Homo sapiens: one gene and its partners. The protein of the gene in region 1 interacts with the protein of each later gene in a pairwise test. Each region holds a gene or a part of one and is shown on either strand. Other genes may lie near its edges.

The links.
Region 2: the proteins of ARFGEF2 (region 1) and PRPF40A interact in a two-hybrid assay, tested with the Homo sapiens proteins (one large-scale study listed by BioGRID and IntAct).
Region 3: the proteins of ARFGEF2 (region 1) and EXOC7 interact in binary tests that used the Homo sapiens proteins (3 or more experiments, as listed by UniProt).
Region 4: the proteins of ARFGEF2 (region 1) and CLU interact in a two-hybrid assay, tested with the Homo sapiens proteins (one large-scale study listed by IntAct).

Annotation. Positions count from the first base shown.
Region 1 is NC_000020.11:49,027,734-49,034,921, reverse strand, and holds part of ARFGEF2 (brefeldin A-inhibited guanine nucleotide-exchange protein 2), read right to left. Parts: intron 6,393-7,188; coding exon 6,254-6,392; intron 2,874-6,253; coding exon 2,756-2,873; intron 1,900-2,755; coding exon 1,723-1,899; 3' UTR 1-1,722. UniProt on the Homo sapiens protein: Promotes guanine-nucleotide exchange on ARF1 and ARF3 and to a lower extent on ARF5 and ARF6. Promotes the activation of ARF1/ARF5/ARF6 through replacement of GDP with GTP. Involved in the regulation of Golgi vesicular transport.
Region 2 is NC_000002.12:152,706,102-152,713,289, forward strand, and holds part of PRPF40A (pre-mRNA-processing factor 40 homolog A), read right to left. Parts: intron 6,267-7,188; exon of another isoform or gene 6,203-6,266; intron 1-6,202.
Region 3 is NC_000017.11:76,084,565-76,091,752, forward strand, and holds part of EXOC7 (exocyst complex component 7), read right to left. Parts: intron 6,672-7,188; coding exon 6,579-6,671; intron 5,918-6,578; coding exon of another isoform or gene 5,765-5,917; intron 5,608-5,764; coding exon of another isoform or gene 5,480-5,607; exon of another isoform or gene 5,178-5,479; coding exon of another isoform or gene 5,111-5,177; intron 4,757-5,110; coding exon 4,611-4,756; intron 4,360-4,610; coding exon 4,207-4,359; intron 3,999-4,206; coding exon 3,900-3,998; intron 3,559-3,899; coding exon 3,496-3,558; intron 3,157-3,495; coding exon 3,090-3,156; intron 2,329-3,089; coding exon of another isoform or gene 2,290-2,328; intron 1,582-2,289; coding exon 1,516-1,581; intron 1,234-1,515; coding exon 1,113-1,233; intron 846-1,112; coding exon 750-845; intron 17-749; coding exon 1-16. UniProt on the Homo sapiens protein: Component of the exocyst complex involved in the docking of exocytic vesicles with fusion sites on the plasma membrane.
Region 4 is NC_000008.11:27,595,730-27,602,917, forward strand, and holds the end of CLU (clusterin isoform 1 preproprotein), read right to left. Parts: intron 4,281-7,188; coding exon 4,051-4,280; intron 2,907-4,050; coding exon 2,731-2,906; intron 2,522-2,730; coding exon 2,512-2,521; 3' UTR 1,188-2,511; downstream 1-1,187.

The DNA of each region.
Region 1 (7,188 bases):
TGTATATAAGTCATGTAAAAACCTAAACCTGCTCATTTTTTCTTTGGTAGAGAAATTAAAAAACACTTTTTGGGAAAGAAAAAAGTAGACAAGAATTCTGCTGGCCAAAACCAAACATTTCTCAAGGCTGTTAAAACAAGAAAACAACTTAAGAATATCGGTCTCTTAGTAAGCAAAAGCACCAGAAATCCTTCTCTACAAAGAAAAAACATCTGATTTTACAGATAGGTTCCCAAACTACTAACTTCTAAGGCACCAGAGTTGACATCAATACAACCCAATTTACAGGACTAAAGAGCATAGGTAGAAGTCTGAAAGTTTTAATCATTCTGTGTAACACTTTGTCTAACGCTCAGCGATGCTCTAGGTGAGCAGTGGGTGAGGGCAGAGAATGAGGCGTGTGTGCTCCTTCTCATGGGTGAGCATCCACGTATACTGCTCACAGGCTTTGGGACGTACTTGTGTACTGCCCACTTTTACACAAGCTGCAGCAGAACTCAGTTCTACTGCAGGTGAGAGTATTGCACCATCATTAACATAATAAGGACCTCAGAATCCAACCTTGCCAAAGAATTCAACTCCTAGGCTCAGATTAATGGAAGTGCTGGGCACATGCCACCTCCTGCCATTGTCACAGTTCAGCTGTGCTGGCCCCGACACAGCTCCAGTTCCACCCATGACATCTGGCTGAGGAGGCTTATGGGAGCGGCTTCTCATGCACAGTTACTGTCCCTCTCTGGAGGGTCCTTTAATGGGGACTGTGCAAAGCAGTGACACTAACTGCCAGTACACTCACTTTTCTGAGGTGAAAATAAAAAGGTTTATTCAAGGATAAATGAACTCTGGTTAAATTACTACTTCATTTTCATTACTACTTCATATATTAGATTTCAGAGTGTGTGAGATGGACAGTGTATTCTGGAAATTTTAATTTAACACCCATCCACAAATACTTATTTCAAGGAAGGCTAATCATCTTCATTAAATTGTTCACTTTTTCGTGTAGACTTTTTCTCTCCATGTTACTAAAACAGGGAGATCCACGAGGCACATTTTTTTAACCTCGCAAAACTCTTAATTCTAACTTAATTACTAAACTCTGCCTTCAACCAAATTTTCAATATCTTTTTGTAAAATACTTTAAAAATCACTCAGACATTAACAAAACACAAAAACAACTCTTCTCTAATCCTGACCTGTCCTTAAACTAATCTAATTACGGCTGACTCGTAACTGACAAAAACATTCAAATTTCTCTAACACACTCAAACAACAGAAAACCCAGCATATTTTAGGTGGCAGTTAGCCGTTACAAGAAGTTTTATTAACATATTCTCTAATAATCACAAACCTATACAGCTATGTTCAGTATTTTCAAGGAGAGTGACTTCTTACAAAACGTTTATAGCCAATCATGGGATTTTGCTAGAAAACGATGGCATATGCAATGACAGATTTGACAGTTTAATCAGAAAAATGGAATGATAGAAATGAAGCAGACTCCCCACCTACTGTGCTAACTGGGTATGCAACAGTTTAATGAAATACCATAAGCCTTAGTTGGAGACTGTGATGGAACAGCGTAGAGGCCATCCGTTTCCAGGCCATTCTGAGATCCAAGATGCCAACTCCTTGTTTCTATGAAACTTCACGAGATGTGCCAGTCAGAAATGGCATGCTGAACATTCTGCAGAGCTGCAGCACTGGCCTGGGCAGCCAGGGCTACCACACTGGTGACAGTGCTGCTGGTACCTGTGATGGCTCTTCTGGTATCCATATCTTATACACAACACCTATCCGTAGGAAGAACTTCCGCAGAACTGCTCGGAGCTCAGGGATCAGGTCAAACTGCATAATTTCACACAAGTAGGGGTAGTACATTGAAGCATGTGCTTTGAACTTGAGGTGGGAGAGAAACAGATAAAATTAGACAATTTTTTTTTTTTTTGGGCACCAGTTTTTCAGAAGTGTTAATCTCACCCTGGAACTTATTACAATATTGGTGCTTTTCTTGCTATTAGAAAGTTGGGGCCGAGCGCAGTGATTCACGCCTATAATCCCAGCACTTGGGGAGGCCGAGGCAGGTGGATCGCTTGAGCTCAGGAGATCGAGACCAGCCTAGGCAACACGGTGAAACCCTGTCTCTACCAAAAATACAAAAACTTAGCTGGGCATAGTGGCGCGTGTCTGTGGTCCCAGCTACTCAGGAGGCTGAGGTGGGAGGATCGCTTGAGCCTGGGAGGCAGAAATTGCAGTGAGCTAGATTACGTCACTGCATTCCAGCCTGTGTGACAGACCAAGACTCTGTCTCAAAAAAAAAAAAAGAAGTTGAAGAAACCTTGCAAATTAAAGCTTCTTTCAGTTATATTTAACTTTAATTAAATTTGGATAGTCTTGCTGCCAAAAGTCAACAGCTCTTTTATTTTGTAAAGCAGGTTCCTAGGTCAAAACTGGTGCTTCACAATCTTAACCCTCTCTTCCTGCACTGAAACTCACCATACCATTCCTAACAGCAACACATGAGGTCTACACTTCAGCCGTTCTCAACTACTGTTCTTCCAGGCAAAAAGCCCTAATATCCTGTGGCACCCATTGTCCATAACGGATTAACTTCTCTCCAATGCATCTAGAATGGTGCTAGTCACGTAACCATCCTTGGGAGAACTGAGAAAATAGTTACTGCAAACTCTTGAGTAAAAAGCCAACCCAAACTTTATGTCCTAGTGAAAATTGGTCAGAGTTTACTTGTTCATACCTTTTCATCATTTATTTTGAGGGTTTTAGTTAGAAGTAACAACAAGAGACTTGTCCAGGCCTCCCGATGGCTCTCAGAATTCACAGTGATGAAATAGGCAAGAGCTTCACTGCAAACACTAGAAGAATTAGAGAGGGGGAGGCATATCAAACAATTGATTAACATCTCACATTCAGGGGAGAACTATTCATTCTTGTGCTATTTTTAAAATTATTTTAACATGTTTTTTTTAATTACTTTTTTTTTTTTGAGACAGGGTCTTGCTCTGCGGCCCAGGCTGGAGTGCAGTGGTGTGATCAAGGTTCACTGTAGCCTTGACCTCCTCGGGCTCAAGCTGATCCTCCCACCTCTGCCTCTGAAGCAGCTAACACTACATGCTTGCGCCACCATGCCTGGCTAATTTTTTTGATTTTTAGTAGAGATGGGGTTTCACCACGTTGCCCAGGCTGGTCTTGAACTCCTGGGCTCAGCAATCTGTCTGCCTTGGCTTCCCAAAGTGCTGGGATTATAGATGTGAGCCTGAGCCTCTGAGCCCAGCCACTGCAATAACTATTGAGCACCCACTCTGGCTGTGCTATCTTGGGCAAATCACTGAGCCTTAGTTTCTTCAGCTATAAAATGGAGATAAAAAATTGCCTGGCCAGGTGCAGTGACTCATGCCTATAATCCCAGCACTCTGGGAGGCCAACGCAAGCAGATCACTTGAAGCCAGGAGTTCGAGACAGCCCGGCCAATGTAGCAAACCCCCATTTCTACTAAAAATAGAAAAATTAGCTGGGTGTGGTGGTGCGTATCTGTAATTCCAGCTACTCAGGTGGCTGAGGCACAAGAATCACTTGAACTCAGGAGGTGGAGGTTGCAGTAAACTGAGATTGCACCACTGCACTCCAGCCTGGGCGATAGAGTGAGACTATCTCAAAAAAAAAAAAAAAAAAAAAAAAAAAAAGTCCAAACTCAAGGGGTTGTTGTGAGGATTAAATGAAGTAAATATGTTAAGTCATAACTTGGCTCAGTCCTGGCACATGGCTAGGGCTGAACTCAATCAATGTCTGTAGCACAAGAGCTTATTACTCATAATTATATAACTGCCTTTCTCTCCTCACAATCACATTTAATTGCTTTTTTAAAAAACATGCCAAAAACTTGACATTTACATATCTCTTTTTTTTATTTTGAGACGGAGTCTTGCTCTTGTTGCCCAGGCTGGAGTGCAACAGCACAATCTTGGCTCACTGCAACCTCTGCCTCCTGGGTTCAAGTGATTCTCCTGCCTCAGCCTCCCGAGTAGCTGGGATTACAGGCGCCTGCCACCATGCCTGGTTAATTTTTGTATTTTTAGTAGAGACAGGGCCATGTTGGCCAGGCTGGTCTCAAACTCCTGACCTTGTGATCCACCTGGCTCGGCCTCCCAAAGTGCTGGGATTACAGATGTGACCCACCGCGCCCGGCCCTACATATCTCCTTTAGAGAAACTTTATGAGACTGTAGGTATTTGTCTTTTGGGCTTAAGCTGAAATGAGCCATTGGTGCCTCCTTTAATTAATTAATTCTTTTTTCACTTTATGACTTGTTATTCTCATTGTAAGGTAACTGATATATGTAAAAAATTATGAAAAAAATTATAAAGAAAAATAGCTACATCATTCTAAGGGATACATGACAATATTTTGGCATATTTCCTTCCAGTTTTTTTTTTTTTTGCTAAGATTTCAAAAGAAAAATTGCTCGCCTGTAGTCCCAGCTACTCAGGAGGCTGAGGCAGGAAGAGCTCGTAAGCCCAGGAGTTCGAGACCAGCCTAGGCAACATAGCAAGACCCTGACTCTAAAAAAACAAATAAAATGCCCCAATTGCTGAAAATTCCAAGTAAAAACACTTTTGCAGCTTTTTTTGGGGTAAAAATTATTGTATTATGAAAAAGTTCCCACATTAAGTAAAATTATTTCTTAAAAATTTCACTTTTAGGCCGGGCGCAGTGGCTCACGCCCATCCCTGCACTTTGGGAGGCCGAGGTGGGGGGATCACGAGGTCAGGAGTTCAAGACCATCCTGGCCAATATCGTGAAACTTTGTCTCTACTAAAAACACAAAAATTAGCCAGGTGTGTGATGGCACACGCCTGTAGTCCCAGCTACTCGGGAGGCTGATGCAGAAGAATCACTTGAACCCGGGAGGCAGAGGTGGCAGTGAGCCAAGATCACGCCACTGCACTCCAGCCTGAGTGACAGAGCAAGACTCTGTCTCAAAAAAAAAAAAAAAAAAAAAAATTCACTTTTAGGCTGGGCACGGTGGCTCATGCCTGTAATCCCAGCACTTTGGGAGGCGGAGGTCGGCAGATCACCTGAGGTCAGGAGTTTGAGACTAGCCTGACCAACATGGTGAAACCCCATCTCCACTAAAAATACAAAAAACCAGCCAGGTATGGTGGCACGCGCCTGTAATCCTGGCTACTCAGGAGGCCGAGGCAGGAGAATTGGTTGAACCCAGGAAGTGGACCTTGCAGTGAGCTGAGATTGCACCACTGCACTCCAGCCTGGGCGACAGAGCAAGACTCCGTCTCAAAAAAAAAAAAAATTCACTTTTAATGACTATGTTTCATAATATCATAATTTAGGACATATTACAGCTTAGTTATTCATTCCACAGTTGAGCTGCTTAAAATTTTTTCTCCTGATAAGTCTGCAGTGAATATTCCATGTGGTATTCCTGGTTCCTATTTCTAAAATATTTTCTGAAGCAGATTCCATAACAGTGGAATTACTGAGTCACAGAGAATGAACACTTTAGGGCTCCTGGTATATAGTCTCACCTACTTTCCAGAAAGATCATGCCATTATACACTCCAACTAGCTACGCAGGAGAGTGCATTCTTACCACACATTTGCCAGCACTGTGTGTTACTGTTTTTATACCTTAGAGGAAGAAAAGAAAGCTCAGGCATCAGAATCTTGCTGATGCCCAGGAAGCTGAGTGACAAAGACCTACTTTTCTGGCTGGGGCTTCCTCATCAGTATTCCACTCTCTCCCCATTGGTGGATTTCTAGATAATTTTGTAGGCACATCCTGGTTATATGATTTCAATTACACTCTTCTTGGAAAGAAGGAATGATGGGATGTTATTGCTGACAACAATTCTAAAGAGGACCTGGTCCCAAGAGGGATAGTAACCTGCCTAAGGCCACAGGGCTCTAGCCACAGTCAGGACTTCCATCCAGCCTGCTGACCGCTCGGAGCACTTTTCACTGTCCATGTTTCTATGCATAGCTCACAGCACCCTTCCACTCCTGGGCTCAAGCAAGGGCTTAACAGTGAAACAGATGAGGCTCTGCCCTCTTCAGGGCATTAAGAAAAGTGAAATGGGAGAGTCACCAAATAGAAAGAAAAAAAAATTTGTCAGAGTGTCAGCATGTATTTTTCTCTTACTCTTTTCAATCCACAGTATTGCTGTGATGCATTTTGTATATAGCAGATAGAAATCTAATCAGAAACTAATTTTCTTACGTTAAAAGTCTCTGCTGTATTTCTTCCCAGGAATCCCTGCGGTTCTCATCAACATACATTCGAAACAGGATCCTCAAACAACAGGCCAGGCTGCTGGTTTCTTGTTTTAGAAGATTGGGTTTAGACTTGCCCTTAAAACCTAGAGATCAGACAGTCATATAATTAGTGCACATTTCTAAGATAATGCTGATAACTGTGTATGACTAGAAATCTAGTTATTTTATGAAATATGAAACATCTGTTTTTTTCTTGAGATAGTCTTGCTCTGTCACCTAAGCTGGAGTGCAGTGGCATGATCATAGCTCACTGCAGCCTCCAATTTCTGGGCTCAATGATCCTCCTGCCTCAGCCTCCTGAGTAGCCAGGAACATAGATGTGTGCCACCATGCCTGGCTAATTTTTTTTTGTTTTTGAGACAGTTTCACTCTTGTTGCCCAGGCTGGAGTGCAATGGCATTATCTCGGCTCACTGCAACCTCCGCCTCCCAGGTTCAAGCGATTCTCCTGCCTCAGCCTCCCTAGTAGCTGGGATTACAGGTGCCCACCACCATGCCGGGCTAATTTTTGTATTTTTAGTAGAGACAGGGTTTCTCCATGTTGGTCAGGCTGGTCTCGAACTCCTGACCTCAAGTGATCTGCCTGCCTCGGCCTCCCAAAGTTCTGGGATTACGGGAGCCACCGCACCCAGCTAATTTTTTAGTGTTTGTACAGAGAGGGTTTTACTATGTGGCCCTGGCCGGTTTCAAATTCCTGGGCTCAAGCAATCCTCCTGTCTTAGCTTTCCAAAGGAATGGGATTACAGACATGAGCCACTGAGCCTGGCCTGAAACATTTTATATATATTCTTAATACAGATCGTTTGTGATACCAGATGAAGGCAGTTACGACTCCCCAGAAGTCATCCTCTGTATTACAAGATAACTTCATTTTTCAATG
Region 2 (7,188 bases), on another chromosome or scaffold:
TAAAGGTCAAGACCTTGCTCATAAGGAGCTAACCACTCAAGTATTGAATAACCTTCAGTTGCCAGAAGAAATACCTATTGTCCACATCCCCAGACACCAGAAAAGCCTTTCTTTCGAAAGTCGAGGAAATAACCTAACAGATCAGATAGCCAAACAGGCTGCCGTTTCCTCTAAAACACCTATTTTTCACTTAACTCCTTACCTTCCTCCTCTTACCGTGATCCCCCTTTTTCTTCTAATGAAAAAAAAAAACCCTAATAACAATAGGTGCTAAAGAGAATTCAGAAGGAAAACGGATGTCGCCAAACCAGAGAGAAATGTTATCCAAACCCCTTATGAGGGAAATCTTATCCTAACTGCATCAAGAGATCCATTGGGGGCCCCAAGCCATGTGTGACGGAGTCCTCAGTTTATGGGAGCACAGAAATTTATACCCTGGCCAAACAGGTTACAGACAGTTGCTTAGTTTGTAAGAAAACTAATAAACTATAAAAAGATTACCCCTTATGGGAAGGAGTCCAGGCTTCAGTCCATTCCAAAGTATCCAGATTGATTACACAGAGATGCCTCCAACAGGGCGTCTAAAATACATACTAGTGACAGATCACCTCAGTCACTGGGTCGAAGCTATCCCTTTTCAAATGCAACAGCCAATAATGTAGTTAAAGCCTTTACTAAAAATATAGTGCCTAGGTTTGGGTTAATAGAAAATGCTGACTCAGACAGTGGAACCCATTTTACCACACACATCATTAAAAAGCTATCCCAAACACTAGACATTAGATGGGAATATCATACTCCTTGACACCCACCTTCATCACGGAGGGTAAAAAGAATGAATCAAACTCTGAAGAACCACTTAACCAAGTTGGTTCTGGAGAATTGATTACCATGGACCAAATGTCTTCCTATTGCCCTGTTAAGAATCCAAACTGCCCCTTGGAAAGATATTCATCTTTCCCCTTACGAGATGCTCTATGGAATGCCTTATTTACACTCCATTGCGGACATTCCTACCTTTGAAACAAAAGACCAATTCCTTAAAAATTATATACTTGGTATATCTTCTACTTTCTCTCCTCTTAAAACCAAAGGTCTCCTAGCACAGGCACTGTCCCTGGAGTTCCCAGTACATCAACATCAGCCTGGGGATCACGTCCTCATCAAAAACTAGGACGAAAAGCTCAAACTGGCCTGGAAAGGACCATACCTAGTGCACCTAACTACTGAAACCACAGTCCAGACAGCAAAAAAAGGATGGACCCATCACACCCGAGTCAAAAAAGTGCCGCCCCCTCCAGAGTCATGGGCCATAGTCCCAGGGGAAAACCCTACCAAACTAAAGCTAAGGAAAATTTAACTCTCTTTCATCTATTCTATTACTCCTTCTTCTTTCCTCTCTATTGCTGATCACCTCATTATTAATGTAACCGAGTCAATTTCGCCTCAAACTATTATATTTGATGCTTGCCTTGTTATACCCTGTGGAGACTTGACACGTCGAAGCAGCTCTCCACTCCAAAAAAGTACCTCTGTCCTTCCTGGCTCTGCTCAGACTGGATATTAGTGAATCGGGATCATTTAGTCTGGAAAGGTTTCAATAAAGACCCCAATGTCAACTGGGAGTATTGCCCCCCACACCCCGCCAAGACAGAGCTTTTATGCTGCAGTTGGTCCAATGTTCTGTAGACCAATAAAGAGCACAGATGGACTGCCCCAACCAGTAGTTGTAAACGTTCTGTAGACCACTAAAGAGCACGGATAAACTGCCCCAACCAGTAGCTGTAATTTCCTAAAGCCATACATTCACTTTACTAAAGAAACAGCTTCCCCTAGCTGTGAGCTAAACCAGTACTGTCCAATACAGGTTATTATCTCAAACCCTCCAAGTTCTTCCCCTTCTATAAGCCGGTTCCCTTCTTTAAGCCAGTTTTATGGCATGGGGGCTGAGGTTTCAGGAACAGAACCTATTGGATCCTTTGAAATATGCTGCATTGATCCCCTACTGCCTACACTTTCCCCTAAGCCTTCTTCCAAAACCTCTCACAACAAAACTATTGCTCCTCCTCCATCTAATGAAAAGACCAAGGTAGCTATTGTAGAAGTTAAAGACCTAAAACAAACTTTGGCAACTGAGACAGGATATCAAGATGTGAATGCTCTTAAATTTAAAACTCGAGATCAAATAGCTGCAGGATTTGAGTCAATATTTTTGTGAGTGACAACTAATAAAAACGTAGATTGGATAAATTACATTTATTATAATCAGCAGTGGTTTATAATTACACCACGGATGCTGTCAAAGGGTAACAGAACAATTGGGGCCCACTAGCCAGATGGCCTGAGAAAACAGAATGGCCCTAGATATATTAGCCAAAATAGGGGATGTTTGTGTTATGATTAAAATTCACTGTTGTACCTTTATCCCAAACAACACTGACCCCACTGGGAACATAATAAGCGTCTTACAAAGACTTACCGCTTTATCCAATGAACTAACTAAAAATTCTGGAGTCGATAACCCTTTCTCAACATGGCTAGAGAGGTAGTTCAGTAAATGAAAAGGAATCATAGCCTCAATCCTTCTCTTACAGCCATTATAGGTGTGCTCATTCTTACAGGATGCTGTATCATACCCTGTACTCATAGTTTAGTGCAAAGACTTATAAAAACAGCTCTCACCAAAACCTTCCTCAGCTCTCCTCCACCTTATTCAGATAAACTCTTCCTTCTCCTAGACATGCATTGTGTCATAATGGATAGCCTTTCCCTTCCAGCCTAGACAGCTGGGTTCAATTTCAAACATTAGTCAACTGGGTCACTTTAGATTGTGCGGTCCAACCCTAGCCAGTAGGGGAAAGACACAACAGTGGGGACCAGCTGTGTTAAGAATAAGAACCTCTTCCCCTCCCTTGTCCATCTCACGATTGCTCCATCTGCAAGACACACCCTTCTACAGAAGTAAACTGCCTTGCTGAGAAAACTTTTGCCTGAGTGCTATTTTCACTTTGCAACACTGAACATTCACTTCCAACAATCACATCTCTAATAACTGCTAAGTACAACTAACTTGCTTAAAATAAGTGATACATAATGTACAAGTACTTGACCAGACAGCGAAAGAAGGCAAATACAGGTTGAGAGGCCTTTATACAGAATGCTTGACACCAGACTGGGATTTTTTCAGATTTGCAGATATTTGCCTTTTTACCTACTGGTTGAGCATCCCTAATTCAAAAATCTGAAACATTCCAATGAGCATTTATTTCGAGTGTCATGTTGGCACTCAAAGTTTTAGATTTTGGAGCATTTCTGGTTTCCAGATTACAGATACTCAACCTGTATAAAATATTCATAGCCACTAGATTTCCAAATGTACGGAAATACCATAACAACCAAATCAGCAGTTAGAAGACAAAAATGAGTTCAAAATGGCATCTCAGGAATGACCTCCTTGAGAGCAGGGCATACATCACCTGTACACTAGGTACCACACCCAAGATACTTAAATGTGTACTGAATAAAAGAAAAATAAAGGTAAGGAAAAAAATAAGAATGAGACTGATAATTTCTACTTGGAATGTCATCTATTAATTCCTACTTATAAACCTTCACAACATGGACCTATTTCTCTAGGTTAAAAACAGGTTGGGCAAGGCGGCTCATGCCTGTGATCCCAGCACTTTAGGAGGCCAAGGCAGGAGAATCACTTGCGCCTTGGAGTTCGAGACCAGCCTGGCCAACATGGCGATACCCTGACTCTACTAAAAATACAAAAATTACCTAGGCATGTGGCACGCACCTGTGATTCCAGCTACTTGGAGAACCTGGGAGGATGAGGTTGCAGTAAGTGGAGATTGCACCATTGCACTCCAGCCTGGGTGACAGACACTCTGTCTCAAAACAAACAAACAAACAAACCCCAAAATCCCTAGTACACTGCTATGGTGTAGCATATGTACCAAATCTTTTTTTTTTTTTTTGAGACAGTTTTGCTATTGTTGCCTAGGCTGGAGTGCAATAGCGCGATCTCAGCTCACTGAGACCTCCACCTCCCAGGTTCAAGCAATTCTCCTGCCTCAGCCTCCCAAGTAGCTGAGATGACAGGTGTGCGCCACCATGTCCCGCTAATTTTTGTATTTTTAGTAGAGATGGGGTTTCACCATGTTGGTTAGGCTGGTCTCAAACTTCTGACCTGAAGTGATCCATCCACCTCGGGCTCCCAAAGTGCTGAGATTACAGGCATGAGCCACCGTGCCTAGCCTCAAATCTTTACTATCTATTAATACTACTATTAGTCTTATCATGATATTCAACAAGCCTAATTTAAAAATCAAAGGTTAATCTATTGACTTGTTTCCTCTTTTGATCCACTATCTAATGAATACATTCATTGCACTACACAAGCTGTTTCGTTTATGCATATGTGTGTTAACACTAACTTATTTTGATGTTGCCTTTTTCTCCTAAAGAGCAAACTAAAAGAATAAAGGGCCCTAATTCAGCATTTCTCACAAAATGCTAATTTCATACAATGTGCTACACAAAGCAAAACAAATGCTTTATGTGGGAGATTTATGGGGGAGATGGTCAAATAAGACAGAAATACTAAGTAAAAATTGTAAAAGGCTTCTGCAAGACTTCTCATCACTTTAGTAAATATTATGCCTTGTGAATTTCAAAAGGGGAGCAGGGGATGCCGGTCATTCTTCTCAACTGATGTGGTCCTCCTTAGATCTTTCCACACTAAGTTTGTGAATAGATGAGCTCATATTTAAATGAACTGCTATCTAAAGATAATGAAAATAAACGTATTTGTAGTCTCACTATTAACATTTGTCAAAAATCTAACCACATTGAGTCAAGAATTTACAGACATTAGGTCTGAGTTAAGATATTTTTTAAAAGTACTTGCTTGAGTCATCCACATGTACCCAGAAGTTACCCAGATTCAAGAATTATGAGCAGATGACCTAAAAAACAAAAATTCTATCTCTTTTTTGTCACTGGCTAATGCCCAATTCAATGGCATGGATCCTGTAGCTACTCAAAAGGAAGGGTAATTCAGAAGGAACAGCAACAAATAAATTTGTCAAATCAGTCAGGTAAGTCTAAGGTACCAATACACTAAATTTCTCTGCAAGGCCTATATCCTACTTTGTTATTTTTTCCTCTACATTACCTCTACATTACTTATAATACCTTACACAATGTAAATGCTATAAAAGTTATTATACTTTATTTTTAAAAATTTGTATTTTTTTGTTGTTGCTTTTTTAAAGACTATTTTCCATCGCAGTTGCTTGAATCTCTGGATACAGAGGGTCGACTGCAAATGGAAATATTTTAGTTTTATTCTCCAAACAAAAATTATTTATTTCATCTTATTTATCTTCCATTTTTGTCAAATGAAAAAGTAAGAGTAAAGAGGCAGACACTAAAAACAAGAATAAGTAGTAACAACGTAAAGTCACAAGTAACCACTGGAAACAGTCACATTTAACACTGACTGACTTATGGGCTTATACTGCAGGAAAGAATACCTGTGTATTTGTTTCATTCATTCAACAAGTATTTTACTGAGCACCCATGATGTGCCAAGAACTGTGCTCAGCACCTATAGGCTTCTTAAAAAGTACAGAACATAGCCCCTGCCCTCTAAGAGCTTACAATCTATTACTTGTTGGAAAATTAAAGCAAATTAAGAAACCATAAAACAAGTCAATAACTAGGTGCCAAAATAAGTGAAACGGTAAGAGTTATGGGTAGATTACAAATATTTTCTTTAATAATCTGAAGGGGAGGTATATGTTGGCAAAAGTCATTTTTGAGAAACTTTTGGAGAAGGCAGGACTTGAAATAGTACAACATAGGTAAGCAAAGCAAACTTCATGGTGATACTGAGCTGGGGGCAGGAGGGTAAGAAGAACAGCCTAAGTTTGAAGTTGTGAACTAATATAATCACTCAAGACACCGTGAAAAGACCAGCCTAAGTTCAAATTAGGGAGTGTAAAGACATGCAGCCTTGAATCCTGCTTTGACATGTACTATGGGGAGGTTCTTTAAAGTTAAGCTGTGGAATTTAGATACTATGTTATAGGCACTGAAAGTACTGGAGATTCTTGGGCAAGGAGATAACACATTGAAATCTAAAATTTGTGGGGGCAGGGGGGCATCCTTGAAGCAAGAAAACCAACTCAACTCAAAAACTGTTGAATAACCTAGGCATGGGAGAGTGACGACTTGGGCTCATGTGGTAGCAGGAACTGAAATAAAATAAGATCTATTAGAGCCAGCCTTACTCAATATAGGAGCAAGAAAATCAAACTCATTTGTAAAAAGCAATTATTCATTTATCAGTTTACTGACCAAAGACCAAAAAAAAAAAGCACTGAATAAATAGAATTAGGGAGGCATTACTAAAGGAATTTTCTGTTCTTTCCATATCATCCCATAAAATCTGATATCTACTCTTATCAAATGATCTGAACTGAATCATAGGATGTTAGAGCTGAAAGGGACCTTAACTCAATTACTCTACTCTTCTCACTGATAGAGGAAAATAAAGACTCAAATAGGGAGGAAAAAAAAAGAGCCAGCTAGCATGACTCTGGGGCAAAGGCATAATCATCTGTGATAAAGATGGCAGGACCTGCATGTCCTTTGTGTAGAAAACACAAAAGACATGAAAACAGTATTTACTATGGACACTGAGGAAGAAGACAGCCTCACACATAATTTTATTGATAGAAATCTCTACAGAAAATCTTTATTTTTTTGAGATAGGGTCTCACTTTGTCACCCAGGATGGAGTGCAAGGCGTGATCTTGACTCACTGCAGCCTCGACCTCCCAGGTTCAAGCAATCCTTCTGCCTCAGCCCCCTAAGTAGCTGGGACGACAGACGCACACCACCACACCCAGCTTATTTTTAAATAGTTTTTGTAGAGATGGGGTTTCACCATGTTGCCCAGGCTGGTCTCCAACTCCTGAGCTCAAGCGATGCACCCGCCTCAGCCTCCCAATGGGAAATTTTTGAGTACTGCCATCCAGCAGGGAAAATTCTTTATCTTTCTTTACTAACATTTAACCAGTGATCCTCAAAGCATCTTAAATCACATATTATTTAAAGCTTAAACAACCTGTAAGGTCCCTTTCAGCTATAAGATCCTATAACTCTAAAAGTATG
Region 3 (7,188 bases), on another chromosome or scaffold:
AGTCACCTTTAACCAGCTGCCAGACAGAAAGAGAAGCATGAGGGCAGAGGGTGGCCTGCCTCAGTGGCCTGGCTTGTTTCGTTTGCTAAATCTCTGGATCTACTTGGTGGGTGGTGGTAGGAAGGGATGTGGGTCACAACTAAGCAAACAACAGGTTTTCTTCCTGGGAAGAGAAAATCTTTAAACTGGTCACTTTTTGAGATAACATTAGGAAACACTTGAGTGTTCAATAAATTGGACAAATACTGTCAACTATACTTCACATCAATATCGTGGCAAACTAAGATGGAGAAACAGATGAGAAAGAAAGGAGTGGAGGGCAGATAAATGAGAAGGAAGAGGTAGACACATTCAAAGGGAAGAAACAAAGCCAGGAAGAAAGAGGACCAGAGAAGCAGCGGGATCCTCACAGAGCAAGGCTCAGCCACGTTCAAGTGCTCTCGCGACCTTGCTCTTCTCCTAGGTAAACATTACCCACGTCTCTGAGAGCCAGCTCTTCAATCATTCTTAGCCTTGACACTTGGCAGACTCCCCTCTAAAGTGGCCATAGTGGGCCCCTAGGAGCAGGTAGTGGTAGAGGAGGGGGCTTCTCTCTCCACCCCGTGAGTTTGATTAGAAACCAAGTGGAGGATTAGGGTCCAGAGGACAGGAGTTCCCCGTGACCGACTCTGTGTCCTGAGGTGCTGAGAAGGAAGAGTGCGTGGTGGCACAGGGGCCCATGCAGGAGCAGGGCGGGCCCAGCCTCTCACCTGCGCTGGTAGGTCTGGATCTGCTGCTCAATGTGCTCCCGGTAGGAGCGCTCAGCAGTCTTCTGTGTCACTGCCACCAGCTGGATCAGTTCAGACCTGGGTCGGGGTAGGGGACAGAGGAGAGGAGGACAGGATTGGCTCCTCAGGCCCAAAGGCTGCGGCAATGCCGGGAGGGCCTCCCATTGCACCCCAAACTCCACAAGCTCTATGGCATCCCACCTTCCGGGTCCTGGGGTGGAGGAGACTGAAGCACCCCCTCCCCTCTCGTCCACAAGAGAAGGAGCCCAGGGGGGCAGGGGCTGGCACAGCTGCACAGCCGAGGGGAAGGTGAGAGCCGCAGACTCACTCCCGCAGGCCACTTACTTCTCCAGGGACTTGAGGATGTAATTGTAGTTGTTGTGCAGGAAGATGGCGCTCAGAGCTGGGTCCTCGTACACCTTGGACTTGCTCAGCAAGTTCAACTGCAGGTTGCCCAGCACTTTACCTGCACAGGGAAAAATGGGGCCACACCCACCATGGCAGTCTGACCCAAACGACCCCACCCCAGGACCCGCGAACGCGCTCCTATCCATCGCTCCTCGTCCTGCCTCAGGAGGCCTTAGCCCAACTCCCCTCAGCCTCTGAACTAGAGGTCAGGTTGTGGTTCCAAAGATCAGATGGCACTTAGGAGAGGGCCCTGGGAATAGCCAGAGAGCACAGACAGAAGGAAGGGAAAGGCAGGGCATGCAGGCAGCAGGGCTGCTGGTCTGCCCGGGAGAACACTCACAGATATAGGTGCTTAGCAGCCGCTTGCTGAACTCAGAGCTGTAGCTGGTGGCCGAAGAGCTGGTCTCTGTGAGAGGAGAAGTCCTGTTATTGCAGTGGCAGCAGCCAAGACCCTCAACGGCCCTTCCCCCAGGCCATGCAGCAGTCTGAGGGGACACTGAGACAGGCCCTGGGCTTCCTTGGGCAGAGCTGGCTGCCTGCTAAGCCACAGGGTGGCCCCTGCCGCAGGAAGCACCAGCCCTGGAGTTTTTGGAACCCAGAGCTGCCCTCTATGATGGGATGGAGCTGGCCCATGTCAGCAGAAAAGCTGGCAGGAAAAGAGTGAGATGCCAGCGCCCTGTCCCCTCCTGCCCCCACCCACCCTGGGTGGTTTCTACAAGGCCCCCTTTTTCCTTTTGTCAACAGCAGAGTCTTAGAATGGGCTCCCCACAGCCTCTCCACCTTCTCCCCTACATTCGAACATCCCCTCTACCAGACCCTACTGAACAGACGAAGCTGCGGCCTGCACAGTGGGGAAGGCCGAGTGGGGACAGCAAGGCAGGGAGGCCGGGCGAGCCTAGGGGGTGTATCCAGGGCTCTAGCCTGGGCAGGTGCTGCGGATAAGCTCAGAGACAGAGTGGCCTTGAAGGGAGCAGAGAGAGTTGAGAGCACCCCGAGAAAACTCATGTCCCCTCTGACTCAGGCTCCCCAGTAGGTACTGAGAGTCAGTCCCCAGGGAACCTCACCCACCAAGCTTCAGAGGGACAGGAGGGGGCTGCAGAACCGCACTGCTTACCTCGGGGGTCTAAAGGAATATTGTATGTGTCCCCAAGAACTACGGAGTGAAAGGCAGTGCACACAGAGGGGACAGAGGGAGAGACAAAGGAGGGAGAAAGATGCAAAGTGCAAAAAACAGGTTAGAAACGGCATGTCAACCCGAATTAAGCAGACCTCTCCCCACGACAGCCAAAACACAGATAGCAAGACACAGCAGGCGGGACCCTCTGAGGACCAGGGAACACCCTGGAAAGTAGAGAGCTGAGAACTGCAGGCTGGAGGCTGCCCACAGGCTCCTTGCCCCCAAAATGGGACGGGAGGAGAGGGCCCAGGGACCTCAGTGCTTGGAATGACCCAGAAAGGTGCTCTTGCTTACAGGCCAACCCCCTGAGCTCCAGTCCCAGGGCAGGGCCAGCAGGAAGACGCCCAGCGGGCCCTGAGACACTTGCTACCCTCTGAAGGCCAGCTGAGCGAGCCTGATTAGGAGAGCAGGCAGACACGAGAGAAGGATTTGGGAGGGGGGCAGGGGCAGAAAGGACACCTTCCAACCAACCAGCACCGCTCCCAGAGTGAGGACACTGCTTCCAGGGCGAGGACGGTCAAAGGGGCTGAGGGAGGGGCCAGAGGTCCAGTGTCTGGTCTTGAAAGGTGCAGGCAAACCTTGCTCTCCTGATGCTCAGCCCCAGGGACCCTCTGCTGAGCACACCTCAACCCCTCCACAGACTGGAGATACCTCCTCACTGCTACCTGCCCTCTAACCCCATGTCTCCAGGCAAGGAGGCGAGTGGGGCAGGGGGCCCAACTGGGAGGTACCAGTACCTTGGGAGGCCAGCATGGCGCCTGCCGTCTCCTGGAAGTCCAAAAGCTGCTGCAGGAAGAGGATGGCCTGGGTGGGAAGAAAACGGTGCAGAAGGGCAAGTGGCAGGCCCGGCCGACGGCCTCCCACAGCGACCCCTCTGAGTGCCCAGGGCCAGCCCAGGGCTGGGATCCGCCCAGTGAAGAGCGCGGCTGGAAACTTCATTTTCACTCTAGCCTGCCAGGAAAGGCCCTGTCTGCTAGAGACACTAAACATGTCACTGTCCATCCTGCCACCCAGGACTGCTCACAAAGGTGCGAGCGGCTCTGGGCCAGGCTGAGTCCCTTCCACCAGTACTCTGCCTGGCCCTGGGCCTGGGCCTGGGCCCTCCTTCCTCCCCTCTCCCTGGTGTCCTCAGGCAGCACCCACATTGCTGGTGAGCTCGTGTACGGTGCCGTCCTTCGGCATGTTGTACTCCTTGTCCGGGTCATTCTGTGGAAAAACAGCCTCTGGTTCCCTGAAGCAGCCCCCAGCCCACCCCATGCCCCAGTGCACCTGCTCATGGTGCCGCCTCCTGGCAGACGGGTGCTAGGACACCTCTCAGGCACAAAGGCTGAGCCAGGCTGGACCAAGGGGGAGAGGCCCTTCCCACTTCAGAGGGCTTGGAGGCCCCAGGAAGGAAAGGAAGGCACATGGGTGCTGACAGGCCAGTGGCGCAGCTGGCTGCCCCGGGACAACGCACCCTCTTGGAGGCCTGCTCTGAGAGTCCCCCAGGGCCAGGTCACTGTGGTGCTGGGCCGGGAGGGAGGGAGAAAGGGGAGGACAGCAGGGACCTTGATGTTGTCTGCGAAGTCCTCCAGCGCTTTGGCACCGATGGTCTCCATGGATGTGATGAGGCCAGGCAGCTTGTTCTTTGTGCTGGCAGCCGTGCCCTGAGGAAGCACAGGGGAGCCCCCAGCTCACCTCCAGTCGCTCTGTGAGCATCTCACTCACCCAGGGCCCTTCCTAAGCTGCTTCCATGCACCTTCAGAGCAGAAGTGTGGGACAGAGAATGGGGTTCTCCCAGGGAGGGATGGGGCGGCCACACCCGGCAGCACGATGCCTCCTGGCTGTGTTTTTGAGGGCCCCTCGCCCACATACCTGGAGCACCTGGTCAAACTCAGGCTTGGTCTGCTTGAGGTGTCGCAGGATGGGGAAGACGGTGAGCACCGTGGAGAAGTCGTGTCGCACAATGGCCTTCCGGGCAGCAGACACGATGTTCTCCCCTTCAAGCATCAGCCCATCCAGGGCATCCTGAGGGGGCAGGGAGACAGTTCAGGGAAGGGTGGGGCGGTGGGAGCTAGTTCTGGGCTAGTGGGGGATCCTTGCAGTATGTAGGGGGGCCAGTGTGCAGGAAGAGGGGTGACGGGGAGGTGGTGAGCGTCCACCCAGGACCGGTCCCCAGGGCACGAGGTGGTGGTGGTGGGTGGAGTTGAGGGCTGCAAGAGTCTGTTGTGACAGCTCTTGCTGGGGCTGGCTGCAGAGCCCCCGGGGCGGGGCGGGACCTGTATCAGGGAGTCGAAGGTCTTCTTCTGGTGGTGCTCGGGGATGATGTCGGCCAGCAGCTGGTACTCGCTCTGCGCCAGCTTGACGAAGGCACTGACGCAGTGGATGTAGGCATCGGTCTCCACGTCCAGCATGTCATCTCTCCCTGGGGGATGGCACAACTCTTGAGCTGCTGGTCTGGGGCCAGCCACACTCCTGGCTGGGGGCGGCGTGGGTCCCCCAGCTCCTGGCCTGTACCCCACACTGGCAGAGGATGGGGAAGAGGCTGACTGTTCTGGCAGAAAGCTGCAAGGGAGCCAGCAGGCCCCGCCAGGTTCGAGGGGAATAAAAGGAGCTGAGCCCAGCCTTTGTTCTGGCTTCATTCTCGGCTCTGCGCAGACAGTGGGATCAGACACCAGAGGCAGGAGAGTGACGGATGGAAAGATAAGGAGGGAAGATTCCTGAATCAGCGTCCTGGATAAGGTGGTTTGACCCCAGGACTGAGCATTCTGAGTTGTACCTGAAAGAGGGCAGCCCAGGGTGGGCAGGTGGCTGTGCCACCTCAAGGAGGCTGGCACTGGGGTCATCCATGTGGGCAAATGCGGGGCCTGTGAAGGAAGTGACCAGCCCAGTCAGGGCTTCTGGAACATCTAAGAGGGTGGTTGGCTGCAGCTTCTGAGGCTGGCTGGCATGGGGTCAAAATCTAAGAGGCTGGTAAGTCCCAGAGAGGAGGGGTTGCCAGCTGCCCCAGGAGGAGGCCAGACCCTATTACTGGAGGCCACGGCGGGGGCGCCTGCAGGCAAAACCGGCGGCAGAACTGCCTGGTCCTATGTGCCAAGGGATGGGCTCCGAGGGGATCAGAGCTCTGAATTGTTGCAGGAGGCGGACGTCAGGGCTCCCTGCCCTCAAGGGAGCCACCTTCCCTCTCTGCCTGCTTTCCGAGGAGCAGCGGCTTCTCCCCTTGGCCCAGGCCTGACAGACAGGCACGCACTCCCATCTGGAGAGAGGCAAGGAGACCTAGGCCCAAAAGAGAGAGAGTGGAGAGAGAGGCGCATAGGCCTGGCCCATCCTCAGAGCAGAGTGGGCCCAGCTGGGCCAGGCAGGAGCAGGCCATCCGGGGACCGCTGCGAAGGCAGTGTCAGCGGCTGCCCTCGGGCTGGGCTGCGGTACTCACCGGCCAGCGGCCCGTGCTTGTCGTTCAAGGCCTCGGACAGGTGCTTAACTCGGAAATCATGCTCGTGACCTGGCGAGATGTCGGCCGCACAAACACAAGCAGCGTTTATCCAGGGGCCAGGCAGGCCGCCCCTTGGGGTACAGGGAAGAAGCCCTTCATCTCCAGGAGGGGGACGTCAGATGGGGATGGGGAAGGGGGCATCGGAGAGGGCCCTGAGCCCCTCCTCTACCTCAAGCCACCTTGGGAACAGCCGTTTCAAGCCTGACTTCAGTGAGCACCCAGGACCGTCCTTAGCTGCTCATTTCCCCGAGCCTGGAGGCCCAGGGAAAGCGGAGAAGGACCAAGGAGGGGCTGAAGAGCTGATGCTTGGCCCCAGGGGGGTTCCCCACCTCGCTGTATTTGGGGAAAGCCCCAGTTTGCCTGTCCTCTGCTGCACACACTCCCCTTTCTAAAGATGGGAAGGCCGGGAGGCCTCGGCCAGCTGGGGCCTGCCACTGCTGGTCTGAGCGTGAAAGGGCTGCCCCAAGACAAATAACTTTTTCTGAGTTCACACAGGAGACAAGGACAGAGACAGGGAAGGGAGGAGGGAAGCCTCAGGGAGGGCAGAGCTGCCATCAGCCAGAGAGGACCAGGCCGAGGGCTGCGAAACTGTCCCTGTGCCCGCTGAAGCCCGAGTGGCATCGGGGACCTGCCGTTCCCACCCTGCTCCCCTCAGGGTTTCTCCCGAGGCCCTCCTGGGGGAGGCTCTGCCCTGCCAAGTGCGTGGACACACAGTGGAGGAGGAAGGGACAGGAGGGGAACACAGGGTGATTACCTTCCAGAGGAATGAGGTTAGAGCCCCCCTTTTTCCCATCTAGACCATGCTGGGAATACTGTTTCAGAAGGTTCTGAGCCTTACGGATCGTCCCTGTCACCAGAGCCACACAGAGAGGAGATAAGAAGACCTAGGAAATGAGTGAGAGAAAACAGCAGCGGCCCTCCACCTGCCCCCCAGGCCCCGCACCCAGCTCCCCAACAGTGAGCAGGCCTTTCCCTGAGACCACCAGAGACGCTGGGGACAAGGATGAAGGAAAGGAGTCATTTCCTTCTCCAAATGGAGCCTTGATTCTACTACCGACCCTCCTTGTTCTGGATTTCAGCTCATTTCTGAAAGGACAGAGGGTAATGAAGATGGACCAAGATCCACCAGGAGAAGTCAAAAATATGGAGTGGCATCATAATCAGAACAGGCGAGGGCTCAGGTCGGAGGAGCCCGTGACAAAGCTCGCATACCCAGAGGGCACAACCAGGGTGGGAGAGCCTGGGGGGCACCCTGAAGCCAGCAGGCCCCCAGCCCAGCCCCAAACTCCAGGCAGAGTTCTCCGAGCATGCTCAGTGTTGGGACGTACGCCAAACAGCAGCCAGCAGGAAGCCACCCTGACTGA
Region 4 (7,188 bases), on another chromosome or scaffold:
CCACCTATTCTATACCAGAGCTCTGCTCTGCACACCTGGGTGGCTTCCTGGCTCCCACCCCTTTCCTACTCTGGGCCACTTCACAGTGAGGGATGGGCAACCCTGAAGTCCCTTCAGCAGGCTCCGTGGGCCACAAAGGCTTGGGGTGGCTGCTCCCCCATTCTGGCCTTCCTAGCCCCAAGACACTTATCTGATGCAGGCTATTCTGGGAAGTCTTTGTAATGTGGGGAAAGTAACTCCTGCCTTGGAAATAATTATTGAAACCTAGTGAGATTACATGAAGTAATTGGCCCAAGGCCACTGTTTACAGTTGTACAAGCCATGCACTGCACAACTCCAGCACCGTTTCACCTTGTACCCATGAGAGATTGTATCTTATTACAATTTTCTGGCAGATGACAGTTGAGTGTCAACAGAGGGGCTCAGCAGGGTTGGTGCTGCCTCCCTTTCCAGACAGATGTCAAATCCCTCTCTTCTCAGCACATCAAGCCCTGCTCCCCCTTTGCCACAAGAGTCCTAGAAGCCAGACACTAAGGGCTCAGGGTCCGCAGTCCCCCAGGCAGAATTAGCCTCATCTCATCCCCACACCTTGGTGACATCATGTGCTGACTCAGTCTTCCCAGTGCCTCATGTTGGAACCTCTGTCAGGGATGGAGAGACATCTAAGGACCCCCAACCCCAGGCCACTGTGCAGAGGGGTAAGGAGGTGCAGAGAAGGGGTCTCAGGAAGCTTTAGAGCCAGCTTTAGGATCTGTCTTTCAGGGTGCTAGTATTTAAGAGTGTAAAAAAAAAATCCAAAACACTGGATATAAAGGCCTGGCACGGTGGCTCACGCCTATAATCCCAGCACTTTGGGAGGCTGAGGCAGGCGGATCGCTTGAGGCCAGGAGTTCGAGACCAGCCTGGCCAACATGGTGAAACCCTGTCTCTACTAAAAATACAAAAATTAGCCAGGTGTGGTGGTACGTGCCTGTAGTCCCAGCTACTCAGGAGGCTGAGGCAGGAGAACTGCTTGAACCTTGGAGGTGGAGGTTGTAGTGACCCGAGATTGCACCACTGCACTCCAGCCTGGGCAACAGAGTGAGACTCTGTCTCGGGGGGCGGGGGGGGGGGGAAGCAGCAACCAAAAAACCCACTGAATATAGTGAGTTCCAGAGTCTAGCAACATAACAGTGGAAAAGAAAAAGTAACTTTTGAAACAGTGTGACATTAATGTGACAATGTGACATATACTTTACAATTATGATCACTTAAGCAAATACCTCTGACCCCATAATTCTAATTAATGTATATCATTAAGTGAATCACACTGACTTTACTCTGAATTTCCTTGACAGCCATGCTAAAATACTTACCTTGGACATAAGCTAAGCTTTAAGTTTGTTGTTTATAACTTCAAAGAGAGACAAGGGACAGTGACTTAAGAATATTCTAAGCTATAAATTTACATGTGGACTTTGCTACACACCTGGGATGCAGCCAGATGAGTTTTGTTCCATTGCAGTACATCTGATGACCAGAATTCTATCAGAGAATGTTAATGAACGAAAAGCCTGAGCTTTAAGACTGAGATTGGTACCACGGGTAGTCATGGCCACCTGCTGGCAGCGTAGGGTACTGCAGCCCAGCTATGGTTCAGACTAAAAGCCGAGAAACGCCTGTGGTCCAGGGAAAGGTATGAAGATCATATAAACCGGCGGTGGACAGGAAATGCCACAGTCAAGAAGATGCCCCTGGGATGCTGAGCTCTTACAACTCGAAATCAACAGCTTTTACAAATAAAACCGCTGCAAAAGCAATAGCTCTTACAAATAAAACTGATAATTTGGACTTCTGGGCACCAAATGTTTTCATAACGAAAACATCAATTATGCATTATAATACCAAGTACACCTTACACTTACTGATTCTTCTCCTTAACTTTCAGTGTATTCCTTTAGGAGATTGTCGCACCTTGGTCAGAATACATCGACAGTTTTATAATAGAACAGAAAAGCTTCCATTTGCAGCAATATATTTTAGTTGGCTTGTTGAAACACATCTCTCTTCCTGAAAGCAAGCAATTCTTGAAGTGGATCAACCTTGTCATCATATCCCTTTTATTCTTCACCCTTTTATTCTTCACTGGTATGACAGTCCCTATACCATCTTAGCCACTGCTTTTTTGTTTCTACTTATTTTCCATCCCCCCTGCCTGCCCCCCATAGCAAAATGAAGGCATGCCGGGAAGCAGCAACTCAACATAAAAAGAGGACCCTCCAAGCGATCAGCTCACAAGACAGTTTTATTGAATTAGTTGCATGCAGGAGCAATTCTGTTCTTCCCATGAGCAGCAGAGTCGAGTGTTAGAGTGCAGGATCCAGAGCGGGGAGAGGCTGGGCGGAGTTGGGGGCCTGGAGGCTGGGGCCTGGTTACTTGGTGACGTGCAGAGCTCTCTCTGGGGGGCTGCAGCTCATCTTGGGGGGAGCTGGACTCAGATGCCCCCGTAGGTGCAAAAGCAACATCCACATCTCACTCCTCCCTGAAATAAAAAACAGTTATCCTCCAAAGTAAAACATCCTCCAAAGGAAAAATAAAATTCCCCCGTAACTTCCTGGCTTTGTTCTTGGGCTCTGGCTCCGGGCGGAGTCGTTCCCACCAGGCTATAGAGTCTGCACTTTGTTTGTTTTTTTGTGGCTCCCAGAGACTCACTGGGCCCTGCAGGCCCGCAGGAAAGGCCCGCCTGCTTACCGGTGCTTTTTGCGGTATTCCTGCAGCGCTTTCTCCGCCACGGTCTCCATAAATTTAGGGTTCTTCCTGGAGACTTCTACAGGGACCGTCACAGTGATGGGATCAGAGTCAAAGAGCTTCACGACCACCTCAGTGACACCGGAAGGAACGTCCGAGTCAGAAGTGTGGGAAGCCACCTAAATGGAACAAGAGAAAAGGGAAGAGCTGAAACACTGTGGTCAAAATGCATGCGCTCTGCAACAGAAGTCAGGCTTCTGATAAGGAAGTCCTCCTGCTTCTCCAAGGAAACCTAGAGAGCTGACCCCATGCTTCTTATACATCTAGACGTAAGTACAGCTCAGTGGACAGAACGGACCTGGTTCACAGACACTCATGTGTTGGGGCAAATGTCATCTGCAAATGACCAGCCCAGGGAGCACCCCAAAGAATAAAAGTGGTTTCCAAACATTTGCTTTAGAAGCAGCCCTTGGTCAGAGTAGGGTAGAAAAGGAATCCAGAGGGCCTGGAGGGAAGAAAGAAAAGAAAAAGAAGAGTTCCCAGTACTAGAAATAAGTTTTATTTGATTTTTTAACTTTATTTTATTATTTTATATATATATATTTTTTAAGAGACAGAGTCTCACTCTGTCACCCAGGCTGGAGTGCAGTGGCGTGATCACAGCTCACTGCAGCCTCCACTTCAGGGCTCAGGCAATCCTCCCACCTCAGCCTCCTGAATAGCTGGGACTACAAGTGTGTGCCACCACACCTGACTGATTTTTGTATTTTTTGTAGAGAGGGAATCTTGCTGTGTTGCCCAGGCTGGTCTCAAATTCCTGGCCTCAAGCAATCCTCTTGCCTCTGCCTCCCAAAGTGCTGGGATTACAGGCATGAGCCACCATGTCTGGCCTAGAGAGAAGTTTTTATCACTGGCAGAGAGTGATGTACTAATTCATAAGCCATTTTACATGCCAGAGGGCAGCCTTGTAGCTTTGAGAAAAGAACAGAGGCTTCTGGTTTATTCACAGATTTGTGCACCAAAACAAAAACAACAACAACAAAATACAGGCTTGGCAGCCAGGCAGTCAGGTTCAAATACCCGTCCAAGTCATCTGTCAGCTATCACACCTTGGCCAAGCTGTGGAACCTCTCTTACTTTGCTCCTTTGTAAAGCAGGGTTATATTTTCCCTGAGTGGGTGATGAGGCTTCAAGGCAACAGGGGCGCCTAAAGTTTTCTATTTTCTGCCGTGTGATAAATGCTCAGTCAAAAGCACACATGCCCCTGCTCCCGATCACAGCTCGGGCTCCCGAGCCACAGCATGTGGCCGGGACACAGCTCACCGTGGTGACCCGCAGATAGTACTGGTCTTCGCCTTGCGTGAGGTTTGCCAGCCGGGACACCCAGTTAAACTGCTCGTTCAGCTGCTCCAGCAAGGAGGAGGTGTTGAGCATCTTCCACTGGTAGGACTTTAGCAGCTCGTTGTATTTCCTGGTCAACCTCTCAGCGACCTGGAGGGATTCGTCGAGCTCCCGCCGCAGCTTAGCCTGGGAGGGGTTGTTGGTGGAACAGTCTGCCCAGAGATGGAAGAAACGCAAGTGAGAAGTGTGAAGGGAAGGCTACAAAGGGATAGAACCATGAATGAATGGAAGTTAGCACATGCAGCGGGAACAAAAGCAGTGCTTCCCTAAGGGAAGGGCCACAAACTGGAATTGTCCACGACAAAATAAAGGTTTTGCCTCAGAATGTGAATCTAGACACTGCTTCCGTCATCCAGAAAGTCTTTTGGGTTTTTTGTTTTTGTTTTTGTTTTTTTGAGACAGAGTTTTGCTCTGTTGCCTAGGCTGGAATACAGTGGTGAGATCTCGGCTCACTGCAGCCTTGACTTCCCAGGCTCAGGCTGTCCTCCAACCTCAGCCTCCTGAGTAGCTGGGACTATAGGCACATGCTACCATGCCCAGCTAATTTTTGTATTTTTTGTAGACACGGGGTTTCTCTGTGTTGTCCAGGCTGGTCTCGAACTCCTGGGCTCAACCCATCTGCCCAAAAAGTGCTGGGATTACTGGTGTGAGCCACCACGCCCAGCCTGAGAAGCCTTGCTCTGGAAAAATACGCCAACTGACCTAAACAGTGTGCTTCGTAACATCATTGATTTATCTTTGGGTGCCAGACCCTTATCTCTTTGGTGACAAACTGTGTTGACCACACTTCCAAAAGCACTGATCTCAAGTTCTCCATGTTCTCAGACCTGGAGTGGCTCTCGTTGCCCTAGTCCCTCCCGGGAATCATTTCCAGAGAGGAGGAATATTACTCACAGCTGCCATTCGTGTGGCACTGCCTTCGTCCCAGACACCGCAGAAAGTTCTCTCTGGATATCCTTTTTCTCTAAGAATTGGATCTGTTCTGACTTAAGGATTAGGACTTAAGTCCTAATTTTACCAATAATGAAATAATTTTTACCAATAATGAAACTGAGGCCCACAGAAGTATCAATAAATAGCTTACCTAAAGCCATAGAATAAATGATCTCTGGGCCCGGGATTGAACCAGGGTCTTCAGCTCCTAAGCTTGGGCTTTTCCTACCCTGGATCTGTGGTTCTGGACAATCCTCCAAGCTTGTCTTTTTTTTGAGACAGAATTTCGCTCTTGTTTCCCAGGCTGGAGTGCAATGGCGCGAGCTCAGCTCACTGCAACCTCCACCTCCCGGGTTCAAGCAATTCTCCTGCCTCAGCCTCCAGAGTAGTTGGGATTACAGGTGCCTGCCACCACCCCCGGGTGATTTTTTTGTATTTTTAGGAGAGACAGGGTTTCACCATGTTGGCTAGGCTGGTCTCAAACTCCTGACCTCAGGGGTCCACCCACCTCGGCCTCTCAAGGTGCTGGGATTACAGGTGTGAGCCAATGCACCCGGTCCAAACTTGTCTTTTGAGCATGTCTGTAGAGGTGGCAGTTCTGGTGCCAGGAGTTCATGCAGCTGATGCACTGGCACCTGGTGGCCAGGGGTCCTTGCCTGCCCACCTGCCCGCCCATGGCTGGTCAGTGAGTTCATCAAGAGAGCAGGGAAAAGAGAATTCATTCCTCTTGGCCCTGGGCTGCAGGTTGTCAGATTCATTAAGACCTGGAAACTGTCCACTAGCTCTTAAAACTACTGTTTTTCTCCCCCTAAGGTATTTCAAAAATATCCAGAGGCAGGTACATCAAACGTGAGTCAGGGGAAGGGAGATTTTGCATATGCTTTAGGATGATGACTGCAATCATTTATAGTAAACAAAATGTTAGGTGGGGAAAGAAACAGAATTACTAACAAGATGCCAGTTTGAAAATAAATATGTAATAAATAAACTTCATTATTTTACCAAAAAAAAATTTAAAAATAAGAAAAACTAGCTCACACCTGTAATCCCAGCACTTTGGGAGGCTGAGGCAGGCTGATCACTTGAGGTCAAGAGTTTGAGACCAGCCTGGCCAATATGGTGAAACCCTGTCTCTACTAAAAATATAAAAATTAGCCAGGCGTGGCGGTGCACGCCTGTAATCCCAGCTACTCAGGAGGCTGGGGCAGGAGAATCGCTTGAACCCAGGAAGCAGAGGTTGCAGTGAGCAAAGATTGCGCCACTACGCTCCAGCCTGGGTGATAGAGCGAGACCCTGTCTTAAAAAAATAATAATAAAATAAGAAAAATCCTTGAGAGCTGAGGCTTAGTCTAGAATAGAGGTTCTCTACTGGGGTGACGCTGTCACCCAGGGAGATTTAGCAAGTTCTGAAGCTGGTTGTCACAACAAAGGGAAGGGAGCTGCTGACCTCTAGTGGGCAGAGGCCAGGAATGCTGCCAAACACCCTGAACTGCTCAGGACAGCCCCCAACGACAAAGAATGACCTGGTCCAAAATGTCAGCACTGCTCACACCTGTAATCCCAGCACTCTGGGAGGCTGAGGTAGGAGGATCACTTGAGCCCAGGAGTTAGAGACCAGCTTGGGCAATGTAGCAAGACCCCATCTCTACTAAAAATAAAAAAATTAGCCAAGCATGGTGGAGCACACCTGTAGTCTGTTACTCAGGAGGCTGAGGCAGGAGGATGACTTCAGCCCAAGAGGTCTAGGCTGCAGTGAGCTGTAATGGTGCCACTGCACTCCAGGCTGGGTGATAGAGAGAGACCCTGTCTCAAAAAAAAAAAAAAAAATCAACAGCGCTGAAATTGAGAAATCCTCATCTAGAGTTCCCAGGCAGTACGTGCTTATATGGTTGCAAGCACCTTAAATAACAGTAGGCAGTCCTCTTCAGTGTAGACTATTTAGCTCAGCTTAGAGAATTATTCTTACCAATAATTCTCTAAGAATCTATCTCAGGTCAGGCACAGTGGCTCACACCTGTAATCCCAGAACTTTGGGAGGCCGAGGCGGGCAGATTACTTGAGGTCAGGAGTTCAAGACCAGCCTGGCCAACATAGTGAAATGCTGTCTCTACTAAAAATACAAAAATT